6 separate regions of the Homo sapiens genome follow, and regions 1, 2, 4, 5 and 6 are each linked to region 3. Evidence: fine-mapped QTL for protein levels in blood plasma. A gene starts in region 3. Each other region holds a variant in brackets. All regions are shown on one strand. Distances are between the middles of the regions.

Region 1 (4,881 bases), 340 kb before region 3:
AGGGTCTCACTCTGTTGCCCAGGCTAGAGTGCAGTGGTGTGATCACTACTTAACCGCAGCCTTGACCTCTCTAGGCTCAGGTGATCCTTCCATCTCAGTCTCCTGAGTAGCTGGGACCACAGGTGCACACCACCACACCCAGCTAATTTTTGTATTTTTTGTAGAGACAGCGTTTCGCCATGTTGCCCAGGCTGGTCTCGAACTCTGAGCTCAAGCTATCCACCCTCCTCAGCTTCCCAAAATGCTGGGATTACCAGCGCAAGCCACCACACTTGCCCGCCAATGAATTTTACACATCAATAATCAAGGATAAAGAATAAAGCACAAATCTAGACAATGACCGTCAGTGGTTGCTAGTATCACAAAAAGACCACCAAACATTCAGTGTCTCTATATGGAAATACACAAACCTCCTATGAAGTAGTTTTGCCAAAAAATCAACCTGATTCTGATCGAGCTCTAGCTCTACTGTGAGTTTATAAGAAATACAGGACACAGAAGAACATGTATACTGCATTATGTAGAAAATTCTAAGGACAAACAACTTAGTTTCTTCAACAAATAAATTGCAAGATTTAAACAAAAAAGAAAGAGATGAAGAGAAGCTTATAAATAAAGTTTTAAAAATATATCGACCAATTGCAATCTATAGTCTTCATTTAGATCCTAATTCAAACTATGAAATGAAATAAATTTTGTGAAAATTAATGAAACTTTAAACATCAATTAGATATTTTATGATAGTAAGAAATTATTTGGAATTTTTAAAACTTAAGGCTATTACAGAATGGAAAGGAAAGGATTTATCCTGTGCTTATCACTATGCTAGATGCTTTACAAAGATTATTTTATTTTATTTTATTTTATTGCAAAGTCTTGTTCTGATTCATTAAAACCCCTAACATGCCAGTAAAAATAGAAGGGACTCAATAAGTAGCTTTAAATGAACAAGAAAATTTCTCTGCATAACTGTGCTACTTATAA[G/C]TAAAATAATACATCTGGGATTTGCTTCAAAATACTCCAAAAAAAGTTAAAGAGTGTAGATAAATTAAACAAGATTATCAAAAGGTTGATAATTGTGGAAACTAGATGATAAGTACATGAAGGTTTGTTAAACAACTATTCTTTCTATTTTCTTTTCCGTTTGAAATTTTCCATAATAAAATGTTTTAAAAGTTTTATATGATTCCTTAAGGTATGATTAAGGTACACAAGTTGGACAATAGTTTTACCTTTATTCCCTTTATATCTCCTTACAGATAGATCACAAAGCTTGTACCAATTAAAAATATTTGCATCTGTTAGAAGATTATGTAAAAAACTGGAAATGTATTATTCTAAGAACTTGTTTAATTAGTTATAAGCTTATTAAACGTCATGAGTTAAAGAATTAAAAAACAAAAAAATTGGGTAAATCTTATAGCCTAGTGTTTTAGAGGTACCTATCTTATCAATATTTAAACAATCTTAACTGATGAGAACTTTTTGAGCTAAAAATTCCCCAAAAAGGTCAAATTTTAGAGTTGATTCTCACTTGATAGAATGAAAACCTAACATCTTCCTTAATCAAATACAACAAAAAAGTATTGGCCATTTGTAAACTGGCTGCAGCCAATACAGTGGCTAAGCAAAAACCCCTTTGACAATATCATACAGATCATGATCCTATGCCCTACATTTTGTTTTTTTTTTGTTGTTGTTGTTTGTTTGTTTTTTTTGACATGGAGTCTCGCTCTGTTGCCCAGGCTGGAGTGCAGTGGCGTAATCTCAGCTCACTGAAACCTCCACCTCCCAGGTTCAAGCAATTCTCTGCCTCACCTTCCCGAGTAGCGGGGGTTACAGGCACGTGCCACCACGCCCAGCTAATTTTTGTATTTTTAGTAGAGATGGGGTTTCACCATCTTGGCCAGGATGGTCTTGAACTCCTGACCTCATGATCCACGTGCCTCGGCCGCCCAAACTGCTGGGATTACAGGCATGAGCCACCATGCCCGGCCATCCTATGCCCTACATTTTAATATTTTCCTACTTCTCTATCCTTTATTTATTTATTTATTTAAAGAGAGAGTTTCACTCTGTCACCCAGGATGGAGTGCAGTGGTGCGATCTCAGCTCACTGTAACCTCTGTCTCCTGGGTTCAAGTGATTCTCCTGTCTCAGCATCCCGAGTAGCTGGGATTACAGACATGCACCACCATGCCCAGCTAATTTTTTTGTATTTCTAATAGAGATGGGGTTTTGCCATGTTGGCCAGGCTGGTCTCCAACTCCTGACTTCAAGTGATCCACCGGCCTTAGCCTCCCAAAGTGCTGGGATTACAGGTGTGAGCCACCATGCCCAGACCCTTTTTATTTTCTTATCCTACTTTTATTTTCTTTTCCATTTAAACAAGGCGTGTATTTTAAATGTTAAACGTAAAAATCATACAGTGTTTTTATGTTTTTAATGTGTTTTTCAGTGAGGATGTTTTCACATTTACAAAATGCTAGATAACAATAAATGGTTTCTTTTTTTTTTTTTTTTTTTTTTTGAGACGGAGTCTCGCTCTGTCGCCCAGGCCGGACTGCGGACTGCAGTGGCACAATCTCGGCTCACTGCAAGCTCCGCTTCCCGGGTTCACGCCATTCTCCTGCCTCAGCCTCCCCAGTAGCTGGGACTACAGGCGCCCGCCACCGCGCCCGGCTAATTTTTTGTATTTTTTAGTAGAGACGGGGTTTCACCTTGTTAGCCAGGATGGTCTCGATCTCCTGACCTCATGATCCACCCGCCTCGGCCTCCCAAAGTGCTGGGATTACAGGCGTGAGCCACCGCGCCCGGCCAATAAATGGTTTCTTAATGAGTGTTAAAACAGGTAAAATTTTCAGTCCTTTTTCTCTGAAGTTACCCCCATCAAATTATTTAAATTGTTTCTAAATGTACAAAAATTAAAATTATTAGAGGAAATTGTTGACCTAAAAGATCAACTAGAGGCCAGGGCTGGTGGCTCACACCTATAATCCCAGCACTTTGGGAGGCCGAGGCGGGCGGATCACGAGGTCAGGAGATTGAGACCATCCTGGCTAACACAGTGAAACCCCGTTTCTACTAAAAATACAAAAAATTAGCCAGGCATGGTGGCGAGCGCCTGTAGTCCCAGCTACTAGAGAGGTTGAGGCGGAAGAATGGTGAAGCTTGCAGTGAGCCGAGATCATGCCACAGCACTCCAGCCTGTGTGACAGAGCAAGACTCCATCAAAAAAAAAAAAAAAAGATCAACTAGACAAGTAAAAAAAAAAAAAAAAGGTCTTGATAGTGCATAAATTCCCTGTCATAAAGTGTAAACAATAAGTATGATTACCTTTGCTAAATCTATCACCACTTCAGAGAGCTTAGGATAGCGTCTTTCAAGAGGTTCTCTTTCCTTGATTTCAGGCAACCTTACTCCAGCAAACACAGGATTTTTATTAAAAAGCTCCTGATGCCTTGGAATTAGATTACCTGGAAGTGAAAACAGCACATATCTCTGTTATTATACAACATGATAGAAATGGTGAAGAGACAGGTGGTGTGAAGTAGAGGAAATAGTGGAACACAGCTTATGGAGTTTGGGGCTCTCTCAACATGCAAAATTGACCAAAGACAATGCCGTTACTGTGGTGGTATATGGCAGTCTTAAGGAGCATAGGAAAAGGACAGGTAAAAAATATTTTATAACTTTCCAGATATAAGTACCAGCACTTCGTTTCTAACTAGAAAGCATAAAGTGCTGAATAAAACAACAAATATATTAATAGTCATATGGACAGGATCTAATCTAGATAAATCAGTTCTCCCCTTTAAGAATTTAATATTTGGTCAACTGATTTTGTGCTTATCTTAAAGTCAGATTTGAGCACTTTAATCTTTTTTCTCAACTTTAATATCTAGTTGAATGTAGAATATATCTGAAAATTCCACTGTAAGAAACTATTGTACTGCTTATTTAATTTCTAATCTGAAAACTTCAAATCAAATAGTTAAATTACCCCCAAGTATTTTCCCATTATTTCCATTTCTAAGCTCCATCTTCAAACATGAAGTTGATATTTCAACAAACGTAAGATTTTGATAGTCCAGCTTTGAAATTCTGTCAAAAGCACTAATAGCAGAAGTCCAAATCTGTGCCAAGATTAAATCAACCTTGGAAATCTCTGTGTCTCTCCTCTTGAATGTGAAAGTAAGGACAGTAGTCACATTACACCAAATGCTTACTGACTCAAGAATAATAAATGATCATTGCATCCTCTCTACATGTAATTAACGGTATGTAAAAGTACAGAGAAATGCACAACCTCTGCTCTTTTCCTCTCTCTTGAGGGGAAAGGGGATGTGAGCGTGATTAAGAACATGCACCAGGGCGGGCCACAGTGGCTCACGCCTGCAATCCCAGCATTTTGGGAGGCCGAGGCAGGAGAATCGCTTGAACCTGGGAGTCGGAGTTTGCAGTGAGCCAAGATTGCCACTGCACCCCAGCCTGGTGACAGAACGAGACTCCGTCTCAAAAAATAAAAAAGAACATGCATCAGATAGACCAATGCCAGACTGAAGGAAAAAATAAATTAAAACACACACGTGGCTGGGCGCGGTGGCTCACGCCTGTAATCCTAGCACTTTGGGAGGCCAAGGTGGGCAGATCACCTGAAGTCAGGAGTTCGAGTCCAGACTGACCAACATGGAGAAACGCCATCTCTACTAAAAATACGAAATTAGCTGGGCATGGTGGCACATGCCTGTAATCCCAGCTACTCGGGAGGCTGAGGCAGGAGAATCGCTTGAACCCAGGAGGCAGAGGTTGCAGTGAGCCGAGATTGCGCCATTGCACTCTAGCCTGGGCAAGGAGAGCGAAACTCCATCTCAAAACACA
Region 2 (5,001 bases), 360 kb before region 3:
AGTGCTGGTGTTCCATTTGAGGCAAATCAGCCCCTGAATCATCTGACAGGGGAGGTCCTGATACCTATAAATTAATAATAGAGCATCATAGGTTCTCAGTAATTGCAAAAGTTCCACTTCCCCAAAATTTCAATTCTATTTGTTCAAATATTAGATGTTTATAATTAACTATTCATAGCTCAAGTTGCCTACATGGAAAAGAATGAAGTAAGGGGACATTGTTCTTTTCCTTTTCTTTAGTCCCAAACATGACTGCTGAGTGGATGTTATTCTTTGATCTTAGTTTATGCATATGTTAAAAGATACTTCTGATCTGCCAAGGCAGTGTAAGCCCACTACAGCCCATCTCTTCTACTTATTACAAAAATACAAAAACAGAAACCTGTTGGAACCATCATATAAAGACTTTGAAGCAGCCCTTATAACTCTGCTACATGAAGTAAAGGAAAACATACTTGAAATGAATGAAGGGATAGGAATTCTTAGCAGAGAAACAGATGCTATAAAAGGGAACCAAATGTATATTTTGGGACTAAAAAGCACAGTATCTGAAATTTTAAAATCTCACTGGATGGACTTAATAGCAGAATGAAGATGATAAAGTAAAAAGTCAGAGAACTTGAGGATAGATGAATAGAAGTGGCCCAATCTGAAGAACAGAAAGAAAAATGATTAAGAAAAAGTGAACAGAGTCTCGGGAACCTATGAGAAAATACTAAATGGTCTACCATACATATCATTAGACTCTCAGAAGGAGAGGTGAGAGATTATGGCAGAAAAAAAAATTTCAAAAAACATGACCAACAACTCCCCAAATCTGGTAAAATATATAAGTTTAAAGATTCAAGAAGGCTGGCAAACCCCAAACAGGACAGACTCAAAGAAAACTATGTCTAGATACATCATATTTAAGCTAATGAAAAGAAAAGATAAAAATTAAATCTTGAAAGCAGCTAGAGGAAAATGAAACATTACATATAGGGAAACAATTCAAATGCCTGAGAATTTCCCACCAGAAATTACAGAGATCAGAAGACAGAAGAATCCCATCTTTATAGTGCTGGGAGGAAAAACAAAAACAAAAATATGTCAACCCAAATTCCATATCCAATAAAATATACTTCAAGAATTAAAGTAAAATAAAGTCATTCTCAAATGAAGAAAAACTAAGAACATTTGTCACCGTCAGACCTGCTCTGCAAGAAATGCTAACAAGAAGATTTTCAGGCTGAAGGAAAATAATACCAGAGGAAAATCTAGGGAAGAAGAGAGACCGACAGAAATGGTAAAGAGCTAGGTAAATATAAAAGACAACTTTTTCTCATAAATTGTTTAAACTATTTATGACTGTTTAAAACAAAACATATAACGTATTGGGGTTCTGGAGATATGTAAATGTAGTACATATGAAGTTCTAACTTAAAGTGCAAACTGGGAAGAAGGGAATATGTTAGCAATGTTCCTACTTTTTTTGTTGTTAATTATTTATCAAGAGAAACTATTTCTTAGACCACATATTCATGTTTCATAGCTCAGGAACACAGGTAAGTGACAAACTTCTAGGTAATTCAACCCAAAGAAATCCTTTGCATTCCAAAATCACTTTGTATTCTGAAAGATACCAGCCTTCCCCATCTCCTCCAAATCTTTCACGGAATCATAATTTCTGTAGAAATCTGCATATGTCTTCTTTCTTGGTTCAGCCACAGCAATCTTACAGACAGCTGCAACCCCCAGGGATACAATAAAGGCTCCAACAATATGAAATTGCAGACATTTGGCCAGAAGACCACACATCTGAGGTTTTGCCAAAGCGGTGGAAGCCATGGTAGTTACTGTCCTTTATAGGTATGTCAACCTCAAAACCAACGTCTTTCCTGGATGATGGAGAAATGGATGGGCAATTCGTACTTTTTATTTCAAGGGGTACAATGTAGACTACGAAAAATTAGTGATGTATATTGTAATTCCTCGAGCAATCACTAAAAAAAATATAAAAAGATATTGCCGAAAAAATACTGAAACTATTCAAAAACAAAAGAAAACTGGAAAGGAAAAACAGAGGAGCAAACAGAAAACAAATAATAAAAAG[A/G]TGGGACTAGATTCAAAAATATCAATTATCACATTAAATGTTAATGGTCTAAACATTCTGTGATCAGCAGGATTGTAAAGCTATGCCCTTAAGATTCCTGTCCCTAGCTAGTTAATCAAACTAATTTCAGTACCGATATGAAGGGACTTTGTGCATGGAATAAATGTTACTAATTAGCTGTTAATTGTTACTAATTAGCTGTTAAATGTTACTAATTAGGATAGATTATCTTCGTGGGCCGAGTGTAATCATGTGAGCTCTTAGCATCAGAGTAAGTCAGAGATGTGGCAGAAGGAGTGGTCAGAGAGATTCAAGTGTAAGAGAGATTTGACCACTGTTGCTGGTTTTGAAGGCAGAGGAAGTGGGCCATGAGCCAAGGAATGTGAGTGGCATCTAGAAGGTGAGAACAACCCCCAGCTGTTAGCCAGCAAGGAAATAGGGACTTCTGCCCTACAACCATATGGAACTAAATTAGCCCAACAACCCAAGTGAACCTGGAAATGGTTTCTCCCCAATGCCTCCAGAAAATAATGCAGCCCTGCAGACACCTTGATTTCCACCTGTGAGACTCATTCAGAGAAGCAGCTGTGCCCTAGCTCCTGACCCAGAAACTGTGAGAAAATAAATAGATATTAATTTAGTGTGTTAAGTAGTCCCCCCGATCCATGAGGGATATGTTCCAAGGCCCCCAGCGGATGCCTGAAACCTCAGATAGTACCAAGCCCTAAATATACAGTATTGTGTTTTTTTTAATCTGAAAGCCTAGACAGCTACTAAGCAATAAAAGGGTAGGTAGCATACATGGATACACGGGACAATGGGACAATTCATGTCCTGAGCAGAACAGAGCCAGACAGCTCAAGATTTCATCAGGCTATTCAAAATGGTGTGCAATTTAAAACTTAAGAACTGTTTATTTCTGGAACTTTCCACTAACATTTTCAGACCACAGTTGACCATAGGTAACTGAAAGTGCAGAAAGCAAAACTATAGATAAGGGGGGACTACCACATCTCTAAGGTAGCAGAAATAATAAACGAATACACATTCCAATTAAAAGGCAAAGACTGACAGAATGTATACAAAGGAAAAATCCTATTTATATGCTGTCTGTGAAAGAAACACTTTAAATATAAATATAAAAAACAGATAGGGTGAAAGTAAATGAAATCAACAAGATTTACTATGCAAACATACGTATAAGAAGTTTGGAATGGCTATTTTAATATCAGATAAAATAGACTTCAAAGCACAGACCACTACAGAGATAAAGAGAGGCATTTCATAATGAGAAAAGGTACAATGTATCAGAAAGACAAGACAATTATGTGCAAATACCTAATAATAGAGATTTAAAATACATAAAGCAGCCAGGCATGGTGGCTCACTCCTGTAATCCCAGCTACTCAAGAGGCTCAGGAGGAGGTCAGGAGTTTGGGTCAGGAGTTTGAGCAACACAGCAAGGCCAGCCACAACATCAGAGCAAGACCCCATCTCTCAAAACAAAAAAGAAAAAATTAGCTGGGTGTGGTGAGCTGTGCCTGTAGTCTTAGTTACTCAGGAGGTTGATGGGGGAAGATCGCTTGATCCTAGGAATTCAAGGTTGCAGTGAGCTATGATCATGCCGCTGCACTCCAGCCTGGGCAACAGAGTGAGACCCCATTTCTAAAAAAATAATAATAAAATACATGAAGCAAAAATAAATAGATACAGGCCAGGTATGGTGGCTCATGCCTGTAATCCCAGCACTTTGGGAGGCCGATGTGGGTGGATCACTTGAGTTCAGGAGGTCAAGACCAGCGTGGGCAACAAAGCGAGACTCTGTCTTGAAATAAATTAATTAATTAAATTAAATTAAAACAAACAGATATAAGAGAGAAATAGGCAATTCTACAACATAATAAAAGATTTTAACAGCACTCTTTCAAGAACTGATAGACCTAAACAAAAAAAATTAAGAGCATAGATGACCTGAAGAATACTGTACTATTAACCACCTTGATCTAATTTCACATTTATAGAACAATTAATCCAACAACAAAGAATATACATTTTTTCAAGGGAATGAAGTCAATCACCAAGATAGACCGTAGACCATAAAACATGTCTCATTGAATCTAAAAAAATCAAGATCACACTGAGTGTATTCTCTGACTACAATGGAATTAAATTACAAATTAATCAGTAATAAGATATCTAGGGAAACCTCAAATACCTGGCTATTAAACAACATTTCTAAATAATTCATAGGTGAGAGAAGAAATTACAAGGGAAATTAGAAAACGTTTGGACTAACCTTTCTTTTTTTTTTTTTTTTAAGATGGAGTCTTGATCTGTCACCCAGGCTGGAGTGCAGTGGCACCATCTTGGCTCACTGCAAGCTCTGCCTCCCAGGTTCACATCAATCTCCTGCCTCAGCCTCCCGAGTAGCTGGGACTACAGGCGCCTGCCACCACGCCCAGCTAATTTTTTTGTATTTTTAGTAGAGATGGGGTTTCACCATGTTAGCTAGCCAGTAAGGTCTCGATCTCCTGACCTTGTGATCTGCCCACCTCAGCCTCCCAAAGTGCTGGGATTACAGGCGTGAGCCACTGCGCCCAGCCTGGACTAGCCTTAATGTTAAAACATGACAAAGATATCTTTTTTAAAAAAAGGAAATTATAGTAGCAGTAATAGGAAGTTAGATATATACAAAATAATTAATCAAATAAGTAAATATATTAAATTATACATAGAATAACATACAGCTAATTTTCTCACTCTCAAAGAAGAGGATAGCAAACTACACCAAACTCTGTGATGTTGGATTAGAATTAAAGGTATCTTTGTAGATTTCAGTAAGCATAGAAATGAAAATACAACATATCAAAAGCTGTGGGATGAAGGTAAAGCAGTGCTTAGAGGAAAAT
Region 3 (5,001 bases):
AAAATGATTCGTGATTTTTCATTGAGAAAGCTGTAAGTTAAAAATAGGAAAAAGTTGGAGGTAGGAGAGGGAGGTGGTAAAATTATAATAACTTAGTTCAACTGAAAAGCATGTTATTTAGCAGGCCTGTGTCTTTTCTGTGCCTGAAAGCATTTCCTGAAGAGGAAGGCAGTCCCAGTGCTTTTTAGCTTACTCTGCCTAGGTGTTCTGGGAAAATGCCTGGGCCAGTAAAGTTTCATTATTCCAAGATCTTTTCTACCCCCATCATCTTTAGGCAGCAAGAAGCTCTAAGTATGTACAAGAGGTTACGAGATGAAGCTAGTCTGCTGGCAAAACAATAAGTATTGAAGGAAGAAACCAAGTCAAAACCTCTCTTTATTCCAGGGCCTATTACTGAGCCCATAAACCTTTAGTGGTCCCCTGCACTTTGCCTGGGATCAACCACACACTCCATGTTGCTTTCACTTCTGGGTGCACTTTTTTTCTTTGATATGGAATCTCGCTTTGTCGCCCAGGCTGCAGAGTGCAATGGTGCCATCTTGGCTCACTGCAACCTCTGCCTCCTGGGTTCAAGTGATTCTCCTGCCTCGGCCTCCCAAGTAGCTGGGATTCACAGGTGCCCGCCACCAGGCCCTGGTAATTTTTTTGTATTATTAGTAGAGACGGGGTTTCACCATGTTGGCCAGGCTGGTCTTGAACTCCTGACCTCAGGTGATTCACCCGCCTCGGCCTCCCAAAGTGCTGGGATTACAGGCGTGAGCCACCGCGCCCAGCCTGGATGCACATTTTATCATGCCCACTTCCCGGTCCAAACACTGGCTGGCCCTATTAGAGCAGTGTTCCCTGTCGCCCCAGCCCTGGTGGACACAGACACTTCAGCCACGACACACATGAAAGGATAAATGCAGGGCGACAAATAAGGGCAGAGATGAGCCACTGCCAGTATAGAGCTGGAAGGCCACTGAGTTAACTAAAGGGTCCAGATGAGAGGAGGCTTAGTTTCAAAAACTTCCTGGAAAAGTACGTTTTGAGCAGAATTTTTTTTTTTTTTTTTTTGAGACAGAGTCTCGCACTGTCGCCAGGGCTGGTGTGCAGTGGCGCGATCGCGGCTCGCTGCAACCTCCGCCTCCCGGGTTCAAGTGATTCTCCTGCCTCAACCTCCTAAGTAGCTGGGATTACAGGCGCCCACCACCACGCCTGGCTAATTTTTTGTGTTTTTCGTAGAGACGGGGTTTCACTATGTTGGCCAGGCTGATCTCGAACTCCTAACCTCGTGATCTGCCCACCTTGGCCTCCCAAAGTGCTGGGATTACAGGTGTGAGCCAACGCGCCCGGCCTTTGAGCAGAATTTTAAAAGTACGCTACCTGGATTGGGGAAGAGAAAACCCGGGGCTACACGTAGAGGGAAAGTTTAGTGTTGAATCGGAGAATCTGCTTTCCCTCTCGAAGCCTACGATGTGCAGCTCAGATTTACCCAGAGAGGCAAAGAGGAAGCGCTGGAGGTTTCTAGGCAAGCAGGCACCGCCCTGTTTTTATCACACGGAAAATATGTCTCCTCCCGCTAGTCTGTGTCGGGGGCCCCCGCAAGCCCCGCGTTACTCCGCGCGGGCTTGGGGCACTCACACGGAGGACTCGTAGGCCAGGTTGACCAGAAGGCAGTCCGCCAGGCTGAGGTTCATGAAGTCACACATGCCGCGGATCTCGCCGGTGAAGGGCTGGGGCAGGAAGCGCTCCAGCTCCAGGACCACTTTTCCGATTAACACGTGCACCCACTTGGGGACTCTGTCCCTAGAAACAAAAAGCACAAGGGCGTCTGACCCGCTCAGAGGTCGGCGGCGTGCGACTGCGTGTGCACTGCGAGCGGGGCTACATCCTTAGGGCGTGAGGTCTCAGGGCCACTGCTCCCCAGTCAGTGGACCGCCCAGGCGCGGCGTCACTCAATCTGCAGCCTCCCGGGAGTGGGGGGAAGGGGGCGGGGGGAAGGCGGCGGGTAAGAAAACTCCGAATGGGGAGGGCGAGTGAGGCTGGTCCCAAAGGGGCAAGCTTGGAAGGCCCGCGAGGCCCGCAAGGAAGGCGCGGGTTGCCCCTCCTTGGTAGCTATGCAGCCCGGGCGACAACTCGCGCGCCACGCTGACCCGGAATGGCTCAAGGACTGGCGTGCCACGGGTGACACCGAACTTGAAAGCCGAACCTGCCGCGCTGGATTCTCCCCAACCCGGACGCTGCTCAGGGCGGCAGCCAAAACCAGTTCTCCAAGGGTGGCGGGGAGTAAAGCGTCCCCGTTTAAAGCACTCTGAGCAGCGCGCGTTTGACTCCGACCCGCAGGGCCGGTGTCCCCGCAGACCCCGTCCAGGGCCCCAGCTCACCCGATGACTTGCGCCATCGCGGCGCGCACCAAGTCCAAGTCGTAGTGCCGCAGCACGGGCAGCCAGCGCAGCTCGGGGACCGAGTCCAGGCTCACGTTGAAGCGCGGCGCTGCTGGGGGCGAGGCGGCTGACAGCCCGGCCCCGGCCAGCAGCAGCAGCAGCAGGGACGGAAGCCCCGGGCGCGCCTCCCGGTCCGCGGTCCGCATGGCTCGGGCTCCAGCGGCCGCAACTTGGAGACCTGCAGCCGCTGTCGGAGCCCGGGTAAGCCGTGGAGGAGGAGGAGCTGGGGCTGGGCTGCGATCGCTGGAGGTGGGGCCCGCGCACGACCCGCCCGCCCCTGTCACCGGCAAGCCGGAGCGGCGACACCTCCCGTCCCCGCCGCGCATCCACTAGCCCGCCCCGACTCTCCATCGGGCCTGGAGGTCCCTGACCGCGGGGCCGCTAAGGGTTGGGGCTGCCGGCAGCCGGCTTCTCACCAACTGCCGGTTCCAGCGCACCTGCTTGGGCCGAAGGAGTGTAGGCTGCGGCCGGGAGGGGCTGTAAGATTTTCAGTAGCGAAAAGGTGTCAGGAAAGACTTTTCAGTTAAACTTTGTTTGCTTGTTTGTTTGTTTGTTTGAGATGTAGTCTCACTCTATTGCCCAGGCTGGAGTGCGGCGGCGAGATATCCGCTCACTGCCAACTCCGCCTCCTGGGTTCAAGCGATTCTCCTGCCTCAGCCTCTCAAGTAGCTGGGATTACAGGCGTCCACCACCATACCTGGCTAATTTTTGTATTTTTGGTAGGGACAGGGTTTCACCATGTTGGCCAGACTAGTCTCGAATTCCTGACCTAAGGTGATCCACCGGCCTCAGCCTCCCAAAGTGCTGGGATTACAGGCGTGAGCCACCGCGCCTGGCTGGTAAAACATTTTTTTAAAGCTCAAAATTTAGTGAACATTTATCTGCTAAATATTTTTCGCGGACATTATCTCATTTAATCATCAAAACAAGCCAACAGGTAGGTTCCACTAATCCTCGCTTTACTGATGAGGAGTGTGAGGCTTGGAGAGGTGAAGCCATGTACCCGAGGTTACTCTGCTGGTGTGTCTCTGCACTGGCCTCCAAGTAAGGAGGTCTGAATCCACAATCCACCTTCACACCTAAGTTTCTTCACCTTTGAGTTCCCAATGTCTGGGAGACAAACTTAGGAAAATCTTAGTAAGGCTGGGACATTCTTAACGGTTAGCACAGTTGTCTGTGGGTAAAACAGGGTACATGTGTACATGAATAGTAGAAACTAAATGAAAGGGCCGGGCATGGTGGCTTAGGCTTGTAATCCCAGCAGTTTGGGGGGCTGAGGCGGGTGGATCACCTGAGGTCAGAAGTTTGAGACCAGCCTGGCCAACATGGTGAAACCCTGTCTCTACTAAAAATACAAAAATTAGCCGGGCGTGGTGGTGTAATCCCAGCTACTTGGGAGGCTGAACAGGAGAACCTCTTGAACCTGGGAGGCAGAGGTTGCAGTGAGCCGAGATTGTGCCAATGCACTCTAGCCTGAGTGACAAGAGCAAAACTTTGTCTCAAAAAAAAAAAAAAAAAAAAAAAAAAAAAAAAAAAAAAAAAAAAAAACTAAATGCATAGTAGAAACTAAACACATTTTTTTTTTATTTTTTACCAATTTTAGGATGAAGAAATACAACTTTTATAATCAATCACTTGTTTTTAAGGATAACACTTAAAGGAATTACAAAATTTCTTGCCAGACATGGTGGTTCACGCCTGTCATCCCAGCACGTTGGCTGGCTGATCATCTGAGGTCACTTGGTTTAATGAATAGAATCAGAATTGCTGGTGGTTGACTTCCAAGACTAGGTCACAAAAGACACTGTGGGTTTCTCCTTGCTCTCTTGAATTGCTCACTATAGGAAGCCCATTGTCATGTCCTGAGGAAGCCCTATGAAAATGTCCCTTTGTGGCTGGACACAAATCTCAGCACTTGGAGAGTCAGGCAGGAGGACTGCTTGAGCCCAGGAATTGGAGACCAGCCTGGGCAACAGTGAGACCCCATCTCTACAAACAAATAAAAATAAATTAGCCGGGCATGGGGGCATGTATCTTTAGTCCCAGCTACTTGGTAGGCTGAGGTAGGAGGATTACTTGAGCCCAGGAATTTGAGGCTGCAGTGAACTATGATCACGCCACTGTACTCCAGCCTAAATGACAAAGTGAGACCCTGTCTCCAAAAAAGAAGTAAATAAAATTGAAAAAAAAGAAAAAAGAAAGTCCCTTTGTTGAGGAACTGAGCTTCTACCAAGAGCCAGAGAGGAACTGAGGCTTCTTGTCAAGTCATCTGAGTGAGCCATGGTGGAAGTGGACCTTCCTGCCTCAGCTAAGCCACCCCCAAATTCCTAACCCATAGAAACTGTGAAGCAGGCCGGGCATGGTGTCTCACATCTGTAATCCCAGCACTTTGGGAGGCCGAGGCGGGCAGATCACTGGAGGTCAGGAGTTTGAGACCAGCCTGACCAACATGGTGAAACTCCGTCTCTACTAAAAATATAAAAATTAGCTGGGCGTGGTGGCGGGTGCCTGTAATCCTAGCTACTCGGGAGGCTGAGGCAGGAGAATTGCTTGAACCCAGGAGATGGAGGTTGCA
Region 4 (5,001 bases), 310 kb before region 3:
CTACTCGGGAGGCTAAGGCAGGAGAATCCCTTGAACCCAGGAGGCGGAGGTTGCAGTGAGCCAAGATAGCACTATTGCACTCCAGCCTGGGTGACAGAGTGAGACTCTGTCTCAAAAAAAAAAAAGCACAATTCCTTTTCACTCAAAGATGTATAACTGAATTTGGTGGGGGATTTTGTTTGTTTGTTTGTTTGTTTGTTTGGGACGGAGTCTTGCTCTGTTGCCCAGGCTGGAGTGCAGTGGTGAGATTTAGGCTCACGGCAACCTCCACCTCCTGGGTTCAAGCAATTCTCCTGCCTCCGCCTCTGAGTAGCTGGGATTATAGGCGTGAGCCACCACACCCGGGTAAGTTTTGTATTTTCATAGAGATGGGGTTTTGCCATGTTGCCCAGGCTGATCTCAAACTCCTGACCTCAAGTGATCCACCCACCTTGGCCTCCCAAAGTGCTGGGATTGCAGGCGTGAGCCAGAGCGCCCGGCCTGAATTTAGTTTTAATAAAGATCAACTTTTTTGTTACACTGGATTTAGATCAATGTTGGAAATACTTATGCACCTTCCACTTAATTGGAAAAAATATTTGATCACATAACAAATTAACACAGAGCATCTTTCATAAAATATTTTTCTTTACTTTTTTTTTCTTTTTTTTTTTTTTTTTTTTGAAACGGAGTCTCGTGCACTGGCGCGATCTCGGCTCACTGCAACCTCTGCCTCCCAGGTTCAAGCGATTCCCTGTTTCTGCCTCCCCAGTAGCTAGGGTTACAGGCACCGCTACCACGCCCAGCTAATTTTTGTACTTTTAGTAGAGACGGGGTTTCGCCATGTTACTGTTACTATATTGAACTTAGAAAATAAGAGTAATGACATCGGTATATAAGCAGATTTTTAAAATTAAATTAAATTTTATTAAATTTAATGTAATTATTAAATTAAATTAAATATTAGTAGTACCAAGTACAGTAAAAGTATTTCAAAAACCCTGTTAATGATTACTCACTATAAGTATAATTTGAATTTGTGTTTGAAATTTTTTTTTTTTTTTTGAGACGGAGTCTTGCTCTGTCGCCCAGGCTGGAGTGCAGTGGCGCGATCTTGGCTCACTGCAAACTCCGCCTCCCGGGTCCACGCCATTCTCCTGCCTCAACCTCTCGAGTAGCTGGGACTACAGGCGCCTGCCACCACGCCCAGCTAACTTTTTGTATTTTTAGTAGAGACGGGGTTTCACCGTGTTAGCCAGGATTGTATCGATCTCCTGACCTCGTGATCTGCCCGCCTCGGCCTCCGAAAGTTCTGGGATTACAGGCGTGAGCCACCGCGCCCGGCCTTGAAATTTTTTACTCATATTATATGACATTTTCTGAATAAAGGCAATCCTAAGAGAATCTTTCTTGTTTTACCAATGATTGACGAAGGTCCAGCAATCATTGGACAAAATGCTTTCGTACAGAAAAAAATTATTTCAGTCCAAATACAGATAGATTTTAACTATCTATTATTTCAGTAATAATAGATAAAAAATTATTTCAGTCCAAATACAGATAGATTTTAACAAGAAATAATTCTTGCCTGTTGTATTAATTGTATACTTACGGCAATCTAAAATTTACTCAGATCGTGAACTGTTTTTCCTATTTCTCTATTGGAACAGTGATGCAAAGACAAAACAAATATTCTCTTTGTTCTAGCAAACTATGCTAATCCAATGTATACAATACGTTTTCCACACTTGACATATAATAGTTTGAGATTTTATAATATATATATTTTTAATGTAGCTATATGTGGAGAACCAGAAGATTGATCTTGAGGGGTGGGAAATGAAAACAATACCAATGAACATCGACTTAAATTATTATTTTACTACCAGTTTTCATAGTAGATTCTACTACAAACTTTTTACAGAGCAGTGTCCCAGACACTAACTTTCCATGCATTTGACATTTTACCTTCTATTCCACTTCCATTAACTATTTTTTAATAAACTGTTTGTATTTGAAAAAAAAAATCTCCATATAATTCTATCCCTTCTTAATTTTTTTCTCTTCCATTAAGAGAGTATGTTTTATTAAGCACTAGGCTTTAGGTTTATCATACCAATGACAAAAATAGCTTGAATCTATAACCTGGATTATTTTAAAACATTTTGTAATTGATGTCCTCAATATTTGAAAGCACAAAGTGAACCAAAAAAAATGACTTTAAGCATGTCTGAGGTGTTCTGAAGCATATCCCAAGCTAACATTAATGCAAGTTGACTGCTTCAAGTTTATTCTCCCAACCAATTGCATATCTGGACACACCACATTGAACACACCTGCTTTTTCAAGTGACACTGTCCACAAATACTTTAAAAGTATCACAGCCTACAAAGCCTCCTGTTTCCTGAAACAGTTACTCATAAACTATAACTTCTCATGCCTTCTACTCTTGAACGGAAAGGTAATACAAACGAAAAAGAAACCTGGCCAATGGGCAAG[G/A]TGTTATTTCTGGATGGTTCTAAAAGCAACAATTTTGATAAAAATATTTGGAGAATGCTAATTTTTTATTTTGTTTAAGACAGATTAAAGGGCCGGGAGCGGTGGCTCACGCCTGTAATCCCAACACTTTGGGAGGCCGAGGCGGGCGGATCACCTGAGGTTGCGAGTTCGAGACCAGCCTAACCAACATGGAGAAACCCTGTCTCTACTAAAAATACAAACTTAGCCGGGCGTGGTGGTGATGCCTGTAATCCCAGCTACTTGGGAGGCTGAGGCAGGATAATCGCTTGAACCCAGGAGGCAGAGGTTGCGGTGAGCCGAGACCATGCCATTGCACTCCAGCCTGGGCAACAAGAGTGAAACTCCGTCTCAAAAAAAAAAAAAAAAAAAAAAAAAAAAAAAAAAAAAAAAGATTGAAATCTTTTATAGATCAAAGAACGAGATAATAGAAGCTTTAAAACGTACTATACTTACCGTTTCTTCAATCCGTTCGCATAGAAAGACCCAAAGGTTTTCAACTTGGAAACAAATTTGAGGTGAAATGCATATGGTTCGCAGGTCCAAAAGATGCTGCCTAGCAAACTAGCAATTCCAGCGCTGTTGTGATTTCTTCTGCGGACGCAGTCACGAGTCCAGGGCGAAGCAGGCAGGGAGGCAGGTGGGCCTCGGTCCGCCGCAAGCTCACACTTAGGAGGACCACGGGCCGCATGCTGTCGTCGTCAAGGCAACGACCTCACTCTGTCCCCAACCATAGGCACAAAGTCTTGGGAGACAGATACGGCCCAGGTCAGAATGCGTTCACGGCAGGCACCAACACCTGTGAAGGCCAAGGGCTAGAGAGCAATTAGCTGGGTGAGAGGCACCACCTCCCAGCTCGTAAGGCGCCCAGTACCTGGAGCCTGGGAACCTGCACCGCTCCAACTACCCCTGGGCGAAGGCGTTGGCCGCGGAGCTGCAAGGGGGGGCGGTTTCTCACCCGCCCCGAGAGCGCCAGGCCTCCCTTCTTCTGATTGGCCGAGCCGAGTCGTCACGAGCCATGATTGGCTCAGGGCCAACCACCCCGCCCCTTCACCTAGGGCTCGGCCCAGGTTCTGCTCCCTGACACGCAGAGGCCCTGCGTCCCCACACGCCTTGGTTCTCGTCAGGAGGCGCCTTTCTGCCTTCCCCAGCGGGAGGAGGCGATTGTGATGCCCACGCGAAGGGTAAAGGTGGCGGTTATGTAGGACTGCGAAGACTATGCAAAATGCGATACGGTTTCCCTCATAGCATCGCCGCTGGGGCAGGGGCGGGCGCCGGGCGCCCTGAGTCGCGTAGGCGCGGCCTGACCGGGATTCCATGCTTCCTTTCTGTTCTGGGCGGTGGGGCCAGTGTGAGCCAGGTAGGAGATAACGGTGACAGTTTAGGAGGTGATGATTAGTAGGCGAGGCAAGGTGGAAGAAGGTAGGTGATGACAGACCTGACGTTAGGAGGGACCTTGGGAAGGCCAGTCTGGCCATTGAAAGTGAGGGAAAACACTGAGATGGAGGAAGGGGAAGAGAGGGCATGAGTGGAATGGGAAAGCGCTGGGATGGCTGGGGATCTGGAGGACACGCACAACACCCGCGTATGGCAGCCAAATGGGGTGGAGTTAGGGCTTGCGATAAAACTTGCCTTAAATGCAAAAATGCAGCTCAATCCACGACTGAGCAAGACTGGTAGGTCAGAATCATGCACAGGCTTAAATCACACAGGAACAGAGCTTACCCCATTTTCAAAGAATCTGAGGCAGCGAGGAGGCCATAAGGCCAGTAAAATAACACTTTCAATCATGATAACTAAATGTTCATGATCATTTTGGTCTCGAAACTACTTTGATTTAGGGAATAGAGTGTCCTGGATAGACAAATGTCTACCATATACCCTAGTCAATATTAAGGTATTAATCATTAATGTTAAGGTATTGATTCCTTCTTGTACATTAAGAAATAGACATTCTTTTTATAGTCTTTTGTGAGTTTGGTTAGTTTGCATTAATCTCCCAGTGGTTAATTACCTTGGTCAGACTGCTTAAAATCTAGTTCCTGAACCTGTAATATTGAGAACCAGACCTGAGGCCTAGTTATGGAAAGAATAGAATTATTTGGTCAATTCAAGATGTGACTCTTAGTGTAGCAATTAGCTCTGTCCTTAGCTGTGTCCAAGTTGCGAGAAGCCCTGTCCCATTTGGTACCTCTATAGGCTATAAGAGAATCTGATGAACTTCTTTTATATGGGGGTAGATTCAGTTTTGTTGGGCCTGAAGCTTAAGAACAAGAGCGCAAAACTATTTTACTTTTGCAACTTTATAATCATATTCAACCGTATAACATTTTAAGGCCCCTTCATGCAAGAGGCCTAGAAGCTTCAATAATCTATTTATATCTCACAGGGAACCAAAGGATAAAGACTGAAAATACTGGATTTGGCGAACAAGTGATGCTTTAGGAAACAATTTCAGCCAGATGCGGTGGCTCATGCCTGTAATCCTAGCACTTTGGGAGGCCA
Region 5 (5,001 bases), 280 kb before region 3:
TTTATAGTCTGTCAAGAAATATAAACAAGCAAACTGGAAACTTAACAGAATGGGTTAGGTGCTATGATAATGTGCCTCAAAGTTAAAACCAACAAGAACAACTAACATGAAATAAATACAATTTCCTATTTTTGTCTTCTGAGACAGGGTCTCGCTCTGTCACCTAGGCTGGAGTTTAGTGGTGCAATCATGGCTCACTGCAGCCTCAACTGCCAGGCTCAGGCTCAGGCTCAAGCGATCCTCCCCGCTAAATCTCCTGAGTGGCTGGGACTATAAGCATGCACCTGGCTAATTTTTTTAAATTTTTTAATTTTTATTTTTAGCAGAGACGAGGTCTGGCTACAATGCCCTGACTGGTCTCGAACTCCTGGCCTCAAGTGATCCTCTCACTTCAGGTGTGAGCCACAAACAAAACTTATCATTTACTGTAGGAATATAATCCCCAGGGCCAGGTACGGTGGCTCACACCTGTAATCCCAGCACTTTGGGAGGCAAGGCGGGTGGATCACAAGGGCAGGAGTTCAAGACCAGCCTGGCCAAGATGGTGAAACCCCATCTCTACTAAAAATAAAAAAATTAGCCAGGTGTGGTGGTGGGTGCCTGTAATCCCAGCCACTCCGGAGGCTGAGGCAGAGAATTGCTTGAACCCGGGAGGCGGAGGTTGCAGTGAACCAAGATCGCGCCAGTGCACTCCAGCCTGGGCGACAGAGCGAGACTCGTCTCAAAAAAATAAAAAATAAAAATATGAAATATAACCTATTTTATTTTTGAGATGGAGTCTTGCTCTGTTGCCCAGGCTGGAGTCCAGTGGTACGATCTTGGCTCACTGCAACCTCTGCCTCCCGGCAGAGCAATTCTCTTGCCTCAGCCTCCCGAGTAGCTGGGACTACAGGCACGTGTCACCACACCTGGCTAATTTTTGTATTATTAGTAGAGACGGGGTTTCACCATGTTAGCCAGACTGGTCTTGAACTCCTGACCTCGTGATCCACCTGCCTCAGCCTCCCAAAGTGCTGGGATTACAGGCGTGAGCCACCGTGCCCAGCCACCTGTTTTATTTTAAAAAGACCTATTAAACTTAAAAGTACTAAAAAAAAAAAATCATAATTCCTAAGCATGTATCTACTGGGTAAATCAGGATGCAGTTGAAATTCCTGCTTAGCCAGGTGCGGTGGCTGACGCCTGTAATCCCAGCACTTCAGGAGGCCAAGGTGGGCAGATCGCCTGAGGTCAGGAGTTCGAGACCAGCCTGGCCAAAATGGTAAAACCCCTTCTCTAGTAAAATACAAAAATTTGCCAGGCGTGGTGGCTGGCGCCTGTAGTCCCAGCTACTTGGGAAGCTGAGGCAGGAGAATCGCTTGATCCCAGGAGGCAGAGTTTGTAGTGGGCCAAGATCATGCCTCTGCACTGCAGCCTGGGCAACAACAGAGTGAGGCTCCATCTCAATAAATAAATAAAGTCCTGCTTAAACTTCAGGTTGAGCTGGGAGGATCATTTGAGATCAGGAGTTCGAGACCAGCCTGACCAAGATGGTGAAACCCCATCTCTACTAAAAATACAAATAATTAGCAGAGCTGATGGCACACACCTGTAATCTCAGCTACTCAGGAGACTGAGGCACAAAAAATCACTTTAACCTGGGGGACAAAGGTTGCAGTGAGCCGCGATCACACCACTGCACTCCAGCCTGGGCAACTGAGTAAGACTCTGTCTCAAAACAAACAGACAAAAAAACACTGCAGGCTGGCACAGTGGATCATGCCTGTAATCCCAGCACTTTGGGAGGTGGAGGTGGCAGGAAAGCTTGAGGCCAGGAGTTCAAGACCAGCCTGGCCAACAGAGAGACCCCATCTCTATACAAAAAATTAAAAATAAAAAGTCAATTTCCATGTGTGTTTACTTTAAATAACTAAAACAATTTCAGAGACAGCCCTGCATAGGTCATTAAAATTGTGATGCTGTTTTTAATAAAAATCAAATACCAACTATAGTAGAGCTTACAGATAGAGTGTAGCTTTACATAATTCTAGTGACTCACAATTCAACTTCTACATTATGTTTTTAGGTTCCTTGTTTCTTCCTTTCCAACAAACTATCCCTCCTCTAACTGTCCTTCTTAAACTCTCAAACTTGATTTACAAAAATCCCCAAATCTGTTTAAAATTTTTTATAATGCCTCACTTGCTTTCAAAAATAGTTAATTCACAAAGAGCAGATCCAAATACTGCCATTTCAGGTGTCATTGATTTTCCAGAAAACTTAAAACTCCCAATAAGGGTAACAACCCTAGTGCAAAAAGGACTCACATATGCTACATTTAAAGTAACAAAGCACTGGGCTGTGGCTCACGCCTGTAATCCCAGCACTTTGGGACGTCGAAGTGGGCAGACTGCTTGAGCTTAGGAGCTGAAGACCAGCCTGGGCAACAAGGCAAAACCCCATCTAAAATTAGCCAGACATGGTGGTGCACACCTGTAGTCACAAACACACAAACACACACACACACACAAACACA[CAAACAA/C]ACACACACACACACACACACACACACACAGCTAAGCAACTAACATTTTTATTTTGAATAATGAGGGTGGGTAAAGAACAGTAGACTTACCTGGTAAAATTTAACAAGATAACTAAAACATGGAAATTATATGTATTTTAACACCATAAAAACTGATGGTAAAATAATACTAACACATGGGAAAATACTACATTACTCTCTGAACAAAATAACTATACACAAAATAGTTTTCTTTAAATTGATAGTGACAGAAATACTATTAGGAATTTCCGGGTTTGGGAATTGTTTTCTTCTCTCTGGATTTCCAGATTTTCTACAGGAACACTGTTGTCATTTATCCCAAATTTCCCATCATATTCATAGAGTACATACTGATCTATCATTTTTGTCACTTACATATTTGTTTCTCAAACCAAAATAAAATGGTACATAATACATATATAATATCACAGGTCAAAATGCTCTAAAGATTTGTTGTAACAAGGTTCAAAAAAAGCTTCAAATTGCCCACTATCTACATGGTCACTGAAGTATAATGGCCAACATACCATCAATTTAGAACAGAGAGACAGGGAAGGGCAGTAGAAGTAATATTTGATTAATCAATACTCAATAAATTAATACTTAGAACTATTGGAAGGCAGTAACTTGAAAAGTTAACTTCAAATGGTAAATAAGTAAGGCAATGCTAATCTGGTAAAATCTAAACAGGCATATAACAGGTTATATAGAAAGCTGAGCTTTTAAGGTGCAGAGGAGGCTCCCAAAGGAATGGTAAAACAAAATCAAGATTTACTGAGAGAACAGTGTTTCAACTAATTACATCAGTTACTTCTTTAACCATAACTCCGATTTGAAGTGACTCAGAATTTAGAGAGCCAAAATATAATTGATAGAAATCAACCAGAAAATGACTACTAGAGATCAACCATCAAACAACGTGGTTTGGGTATTGCAGGAAATAAGACTATGAAAATTGAGTAAGTAATATAAAGTTCGTATTTATAATTCATGCAGTGTACGTAAGAAGGTTGAGAAAAAGGAAAAAAGCCAAATTACACTTTCAGAATAAAAGTGATTACAAGAAGAAAGAATTGTGCCATTTTTATTATTCATAGCAAATCATCTTACAGGTAATCCATTTCTAGATCTGGGACCTTCCATTTCTTAAAAAAAGTTAACAAAACGAAACAAAATTCTGAATATGGGAGTAAAAGGTTTCAACTATCTTATCCATGGCCATGAAAAACTCATGACCTTACTGGATCTCGATTTCCTAGTTTACAAATTGAGAAGAAATCCCCGGTCAAGCCTACAAGACTATACAGTTCTACAAAGATAGCCAAGAAGGCCTGGTGCAGTGGCTCACACCTGTAATCCCAATATTTTGGGAGGCCAAAGTGGGTGAATCGCTTGAGCTCAGGTGTTTGAGACCAGCCCAGGCAACATGGCAAAACCCCGTCTCTACTAAAAAATACAAAAAATTAGCGGGGCGTGGTAGTGTGCAAGCGTAGCTCCAGCTACTCGGGAAGCTGAGGTGGGAGGAATGCCTGAGCCCGGGAAGTCAAGGCTGCAGCGAGCCAAGATGGCACCACCGCACTCAAACCTGGGTAACAGGAGTGAGACACTGTTTAAAAAAAAAAAAAAAAAGATAGCCAAGATTAAAGGATACTTATACACAAAAAGAAATCTTTAGAAAGTTCTTAGATTAGCACCTTCAAAGATAACTACCATCTTCAATAAGGTGGTTGTTAGCCTCACCTAACAACCTTTTTAGAAAAAGTTAAATACAATATATCACACTCCACTTCTTCCAATGACACCTGAAAATGTGAAGAATCTCACACAGGAATGCACAGTGTAAAATTTTATCTGATACATTAGCTCTATACACAGTCAAAGCTCTCTCATGAACAAATCCGTCTTTTACTTGTCAAATGAAAACATTATCCAAGGCCAGGCGCAGTGGCTCATGCCTACTTCCCAGCACTTTGGGAGGCAATGGCAGGAGGATCACAAGGTCAGGAGATCGAGACCATCCTGGCTAACACAGTGAAAGCCCGTCTCTACTAAAAATACAAAAAATTAGCCAGGCCTGGTGGTACGCGCCTATAGTCCCAGCTACTCAGGAGGCTAAGGCAGCAGAATTGCTTGAACTCAGAGGCAAAGGTTGCAGTAAGCTGAGATCACACCCTTGCACTTCAGCCTGGGCAACAAGAGCGAAACTCTGTCTCAAAAAACAAAAAACCGAAAACATTATCCAGTATAGTTTAGAGGCTTTTTACTCTCCAACTCTGCCTATCGCACCTAAAATCCCAGTGAATCTTCATCAGAATATTTTATTCATTCCTGTTTCTTAAAATGTTTCCTCTGCATTTGCCTAATTCCTGAAGCACATGCACTTCAGCTCTCACGGAAAATTGCTCTATATTTGTCACCATATTTTCTGAATCTATTAATTATACACATTGAGAGAGAGT
Region 6 (5,001 bases), 340 kb before region 3:
TCTCTCCCATGTTTTATACCCCCATTCTAAGGTGTGAATAAATGTATTATTATAAATATTTATTTTGTGTTTTATTTTCACTCTTTGAATATATTAATCTGGTAGTTTGAACTCATTTTTAAATTTTAGGCCAGCCCTGGTGGCTCACGCCTGTAATCCCAGCATTTTGGGAGGCCAAGGTGGGCAGATCACCTGAGGTCAGGAGTTCGAAACCAGCCTGGCCGACATGGAGAAACCCCGCCTCTACTAAAAATACAAAAATTAGCTGGGTGTGGTGGCAGGTGCCTGTAATCCCAGCTACTCGGGAGGTTGAGGCAGGAGAATCGCTCAAATCTGGGAGGCGGAGGTTGCAGTGAGCCGAGATCATGCCACTGCACTCCAGCCTGGGCGACAGAGCGAGATTCTGACTCGAAAAAAAAAAAAAATTATTTTTTCTACTTGCATAGGAAGGAAAAGTACAGTGAAGAAAACAAAAGCACAAATCTCTGCCTTGGAATCTTACGTTCTAGCTGGGGGAGACAGACAATATATAAATAAGAGTATATAGACGATGTCAGGTAAATGCAATGGAAAAAAAAATAAGCAAGGAGAAGGCATCGAACATAAAGGGAGGCATAATGAGTTACAAGACTTCACAGTAAGGTTTCATGTGAGCTAAGAAGAGAAAAAGCAAATCCATTGGGTTATCTGGGGGAAGAATGTTCCAAAGCAAAAGAAATAGCAAGTGCAAAAGCCCAAAGGTGGGAGTATGTCTGACTATGTTCCAGGAATAACAAGGAAATCAGTGTGGTAGAACAGATTGATGGAGAAAGAGTAGGTGGAGATGGGATAGAGGGTTGGTTGGAGTCAATCCTGCAGGCACTTATAGACCCTATAAGGACTTTGGCCTTTCCTCAGTGATAAGAAGCTAATGGAGGAAGTTTAGCAGAAGAATGATGAGGGTTTCACCTAACTTCAAAAGAGAAACATTCTGGAGGCCATGCTGAGAATAATAATGGTCCTTCCTGTGCTCTGTCTAAATACAATATGATACTATGCTTTAATTTGCTGATCCTCTAGATCATGAAGTCCTTGAAAAGAAAGATTGACTTATTTATTTCCAGTGTCTCACACATAACGATTGATAAATATTTATTATATAAATAAATAGAATCGTTTCTTTCTTCTTTTTTTTTTTTTTTTGAGACAGGGTCTTGGTCTGTCACCCAGGCTGAGGTGCTGGGGCACAATTACAGCCACAGCTTACCACTGTAGCCTCAACTTTCCAGGCTCAAGCAACCCACCCATCTTAGCCTCCCAAGTAGCTAGGACTACAGTCATGTGCCACCATACCCAGCTAACTTTTTAAAAAATTTTTTGTAGAGACAGGATCTTGCTATGTTGCTCAAGCTTGTCTCAAACTCCTGGGCTCAAACTATCCTCCCACCTCGGCCTCCCAAAGTGCTGGGATTATAGATGTGTGCTACTGTCCCTGGCCAATAGAATACAGCCACCAAAAATCTGGTGTGGGTGAGATAAGACAATTTATCTTTTCATCTACTCTAAAAAAGAACTGACCAGCAATCATCAAGTTGAGAAAATTTACTATGTTACTAAAGAAAAAATAAAACAAGCCAGGCACAGATGGCTCACACCTGTAATCCCAGCACTTTGGGAGGCCAAGGCAGGTGGATCACGAGGTCAGGAGTTCAAGACCAGCCTGGCCAAGATGGTGAAACCCTGTCTCTACTAAAAATAAAAAATTAGCTGGGTGCGGTGGCAGGCACCTGTAATCCCAGCTACTCAGGAGGCTGAGGCAGGAGAATCACTTGAACCCAGGAGGTGGAGGTTACAGTGAGCCAAGATCTCACCACTGCACTGTAGCCTGGGCAACAGAGCAAGACTCCATGAAAAAAAAAAGAAAAGAAAAAGAAAGAGAGGAAGGAAGGAAGGAAGGAAAGAAGGAAGGAAGGAAGGAAGGAAGGAAGGAAGGAAGGAAGGAAGGAAGGAAGGAAGAAAGGAAGGAAGGAGTTTTTAGACTCATAAAACTTAAACTTTCAGAATTTCACGTTTATGACTATGATGGGTTGGGATAATATATGCACAATTAAGGTTTCACTTTATGTGTATCCAAACAAAATTCTCAATACTTCACTATCATATTTAATTTTAATAAAAGTCTAGAGCTGACTGGTGTTTGCTCTTCTACTACTGAGAACTGCTTACTTACTAATGTGGTCACATTAATGTTATAAATGCCTGATGGGGAATGTCTGTTCGGTTTAACAAATGGAATAGAACACTTCTTAGTTTTCTCATCCACT[C/T]TGTAACGACAAAAAAAAATGTTTTTAAGTTAGAACCAGCAATAATTATTTTTTCAAGCACAAAACTAAATGACACAGCACCAACTAACAAGCAGTTTAACCAGAGTGTAATGTCTATTCTCAAATATACAATGCACATAAATCTGGTGAAACATTCTATTCTTTAACACTACCCTCATGCCTCCCAGCAGCCCCCAACTCCTACCAAATACATTACCCTCCTTTCAGCAAAATTCCCAAATGGAGCTTCCTTATACTACTATAGGCTCACAGTCACACCATGCAGCAGCAGCCACTCAAAAATTATCTCTTTTAGTATGACAACCTGCTTTCACATTATTAGACTATATAGCTGTAGATTCTCTTCACCTTAAGCAATAAAACCCTACTTTCTCAGGACTTTGGTGAATTGTTTTGATCAAATGCTAATAATCTTCATCACACAGCCAAAAAGTCTTTTGAAACAGCTACCTGACAAGAATGAATAGCATCCAGAATTCTGAGAATAAAAACAATGTGGATGAATTGACAAACCCTTGCAATTTGCAAATATGTCCTTAAACACTTTTTTGATCTTATTTTACTAATTCATACCTGTAACCCTGAATTGGTATAGTCTCAGTCCCCATTCCAGAATTAATGCTGGGAGCAACTGCAGAAAGATTGTGTGTAAGTGGGGGAATTGCCACGCTTGGATTCCTTGTGTGGTCCACGCTGACATTGCTGCAGTCTTTGAGGCTTGTTGAAGGCACTATTTTGTTGTGGCTTGTCCTACTGTCATGGAGACAGCTGGCATTTGAAGCTCTATTGCCTTTTTCAGCTTTTTCTCCATCAATTTTTGAGCCTTTTATTTTAAATAGTTTATAATCCTTAATTTTGGGATCAGCATTGGTATCCTGATCATTAACAAAAATATTAATAAGGTTAATGATCTGAAGAGAATGAAAATTTACCTCTTCTTATAAAGTACTTGTCAACTAGAGCAGAATATCATAAGTATCACCTTTTTGAAACTGTTTTCTTTATTCTTCCTAGGGGATTAAAATTAAAGCCAGATTCTTATTCAGATAGTTATTGGGAAAATACAAAAAGAATGGAAATGCAATTCACACAGCTCACTCAGACACACACACACACACATACACACACATCAGTGGAAAAACTCATGGAAGAGGAATCAAGAATTCCACTTTTGTTCTTACATATTCAGAGTCATGGAACACAAAACTGATAACTCTTTCTTCTTTTGGTGTACTTGATATAAGTGGATTGGTGGTGGATTTGAATTACCTTATCAAGAACAGATCCTGGGTAGTTCACCAGGAAAAGCAAACCTAAGTTAAGTATCCAAATCTCACTTTTCAAATTTTTACTTCATATAAATTTCTACAGACAATATTTTTCACTCATATCCTTTAAGAAAGATAAGTGGGGTGAGGGTTGTTTGTTCCATGTGTCTGTGTGTATATGTGTTCATGAAAACACATATCTAGATGTTCTTGGATGAATGTGATTTAAGCACTGTTGCACAGTCTGGCACATAACAGGTACTCAAAACATGATATGTTAAGTTTTCTAAACAGGTAATATCTACTGAGAAGATACATTTTTACAACTAAACTAAAAGTTAACAATTTGCTCACTGCTCAGAAAACTTTTTTCAAAATCATATTTTTTCTCAAAAAATTTAAAAAAATAAGTATATTAAATCTAAAATGTGAAACATGAACATTTACCTGTACCACAAGTGTTTTTCTTTCTTCAACTAAGGAATCATCTTTTTCTTTTTCCTTCTTTCTGTTTTGGGATTTTTTAGATAAAGAAACATTTCTGGCATCTTTCTGTACTTTTAACTGTAGTTCTTGGGAAAACCTACATAAAAATATAATAAAATAAAATTGTAAGACATGGATAAACCTACAAAAAAATTGACTTTCAAGATATTTATTTTTTAAAAATTGAATGTTAAACTAGTCTATGTTATTAAAAATGAGAAAAATCCTGGCCTAGATCAGCAGTTTGGAAAGGGTGGTGTGTAGATCTTTGGGGATCCCTAAGAACATTCAGAAGGTTCACAAAGTCAATGCTATTATTTTAACATAAAGATGTTTGTCTTTCTCACCAGGTTAACATGAAAGCAGTGGTGGATAAAACTGCTGACACCTTACCAAGAAGAAAAGCAGCAAAACCAAAATGTACTAGCAGTCATTACTTTCTTGATAACCACACATTCTCAGTTGCTTTTTTTTTTTAAAAAAAAAAAAGGCAGTCTTGCTTAAGAATGTCTCTGATGAATCAGCAAAAAGGTATTGACTTCATTAAAGCCAAACTCTTAAACGCATCCTTTTTTTATGGTCTGTGTGACAAAATGAGAATATACGTAAAGCACCTCTGCTACAAACCGAAACACTATGGTTGTCTTAAGAAAAATGCTTGCATAATTATTTGTGATACAAACTAAACTAGATATTTTTACTTGAAAGAAAGACTGACAGAAAAACTATGGTTATTAAGACTTTGGGTCTATGGGAAACATTTTCTTTTAACAAATAAACAAAGTGATCTTGTCACTTCAAGGAAAACAGAAATAATTGTGTTAATGATAAAATTCAAAATTTTATGCAAAAATTACAATTCTGTTAAACTTGTATCCACCACTGTGAGCTTAGCAGCTTCCCAAAACTCACAAAACTTTTAT

Direction of the effects. Alleles are on the strand shown, and positions count from the first base shown. The strength of an association depends on the size of the effect and on how common the allele is.
For the plasma level of the protein whose gene starts at base 2,636 in region 3, G is the high allele of the variant in region 1 and C is the other (moderate association).
As copies of G replace A in region 2, the plasma level of the protein whose gene starts at base 2,636 in region 3 goes down (weak association).
As copies of G replace A in region 4, the plasma level of the protein whose gene starts at base 2,636 in region 3 goes down (strong association).
In carriers of allele C in region 5, the plasma level of the protein whose gene starts at base 2,636 in region 3 tends to be lower than with CAAACAA alone (moderate association).
As copies of T replace C in region 6, the plasma level of the protein whose gene starts at base 2,636 in region 3 goes down (weak association).

What was found. PIP is the chance, under the fine-mapping model, that this variant and not a neighbour inherited with it causes the effect. The UK Biobank Pharma Proteomics Project read protein levels with antibody pairs (Olink). The fine-mapping took linkage between variants from a reference panel, not from the people measured, so its PIPs are less certain.
Region 1: its variant is fine-mapped to the plasma level of the NAAA protein (UK Biobank, PIP above 0.99).
Region 2: its variant is fine-mapped to the plasma level of the NAAA protein (UK Biobank, PIP above 0.99).
Region 4: its variant is fine-mapped to the plasma level of the NAAA protein (UK Biobank, PIP 0.97).
Region 5: its variant is fine-mapped to the plasma level of the NAAA protein (UK Biobank, PIP above 0.99).
Region 6: its variant is fine-mapped to the plasma level of the NAAA protein (UK Biobank, PIP above 0.99).

Annotation. Positions count from the first base shown.
Region 1 is chr4:75,600,481-75,605,361 of GRCh38, forward strand. CDKL2 (cyclin dependent kinase like 2) reads right to left here. Exons shown (of 14, transcript NM_001330724.2): 6 at 3,337-3,476. Among named protein-coding and RNA genes, the nearest start is that of CDKL2, 28 kb to the right of the region's middle. The variant G/C (reference allele first, on the strand shown) is at 985.
Region 2 is chr4:75,581,835-75,586,835 of GRCh38, forward strand. It overlaps CDKL2 (cyclin dependent kinase like 2), which reads right to left. Exons shown (of 14, transcript NM_001330724.2): 13 at 1-64. It also overlaps the pseudogene COX6CP9. Among named protein-coding and RNA genes, the nearest start is that of ODAPH, 28 kb to the left of the region's middle. The variant A/G (reference allele first, on the strand shown) is at 2,093.
Region 3 is chr4:75,938,378-75,943,378 of GRCh38, forward strand. NAAA (N-acylethanolamine acid amidase) reads right to left here and starts at 2,636. Exons shown (of 11, transcript NM_014435.4): 1 at 2,367-2,636; 2 at 1,624-1,788. The coding sequence starts at 2,572. RefSeq lists silencers at 1,919-1,988, 2,389-2,858.
Region 4 is chr4:75,627,090-75,632,090 of GRCh38, forward strand. CDKL2 (cyclin dependent kinase like 2) reads right to left here and starts at 3,439. Exons shown (of 14, transcript NM_001330724.2): 1 at 2,953-3,439. The variant G/A (reference allele first, on the strand shown) is at 2,479.
Region 5 is chr4:75,663,135-75,668,135 of GRCh38, forward strand. All of the region lies in intron 1 of G3BP2 (G3BP stress granule assembly factor 2), which reads right to left. Among named protein-coding and RNA genes, the nearest start is that of G3BP2, 7.8 kb to the right of the region's middle. The variant CAAACAA/C (reference allele first, on the strand shown) is at 2,516.
Region 6 is chr4:75,594,038-75,599,038 of GRCh38, forward strand. It overlaps CDKL2 (cyclin dependent kinase like 2), which reads right to left. Exons shown (of 14, transcript NM_001330724.2): 8 at 4,040-4,175; 9 at 2,898-3,199; 10 at 2,210-2,303. Among named protein-coding and RNA genes, the nearest start is that of CDKL2, 34 kb to the right of the region's middle. The variant C/T (reference allele first, on the strand shown) is at 2,304.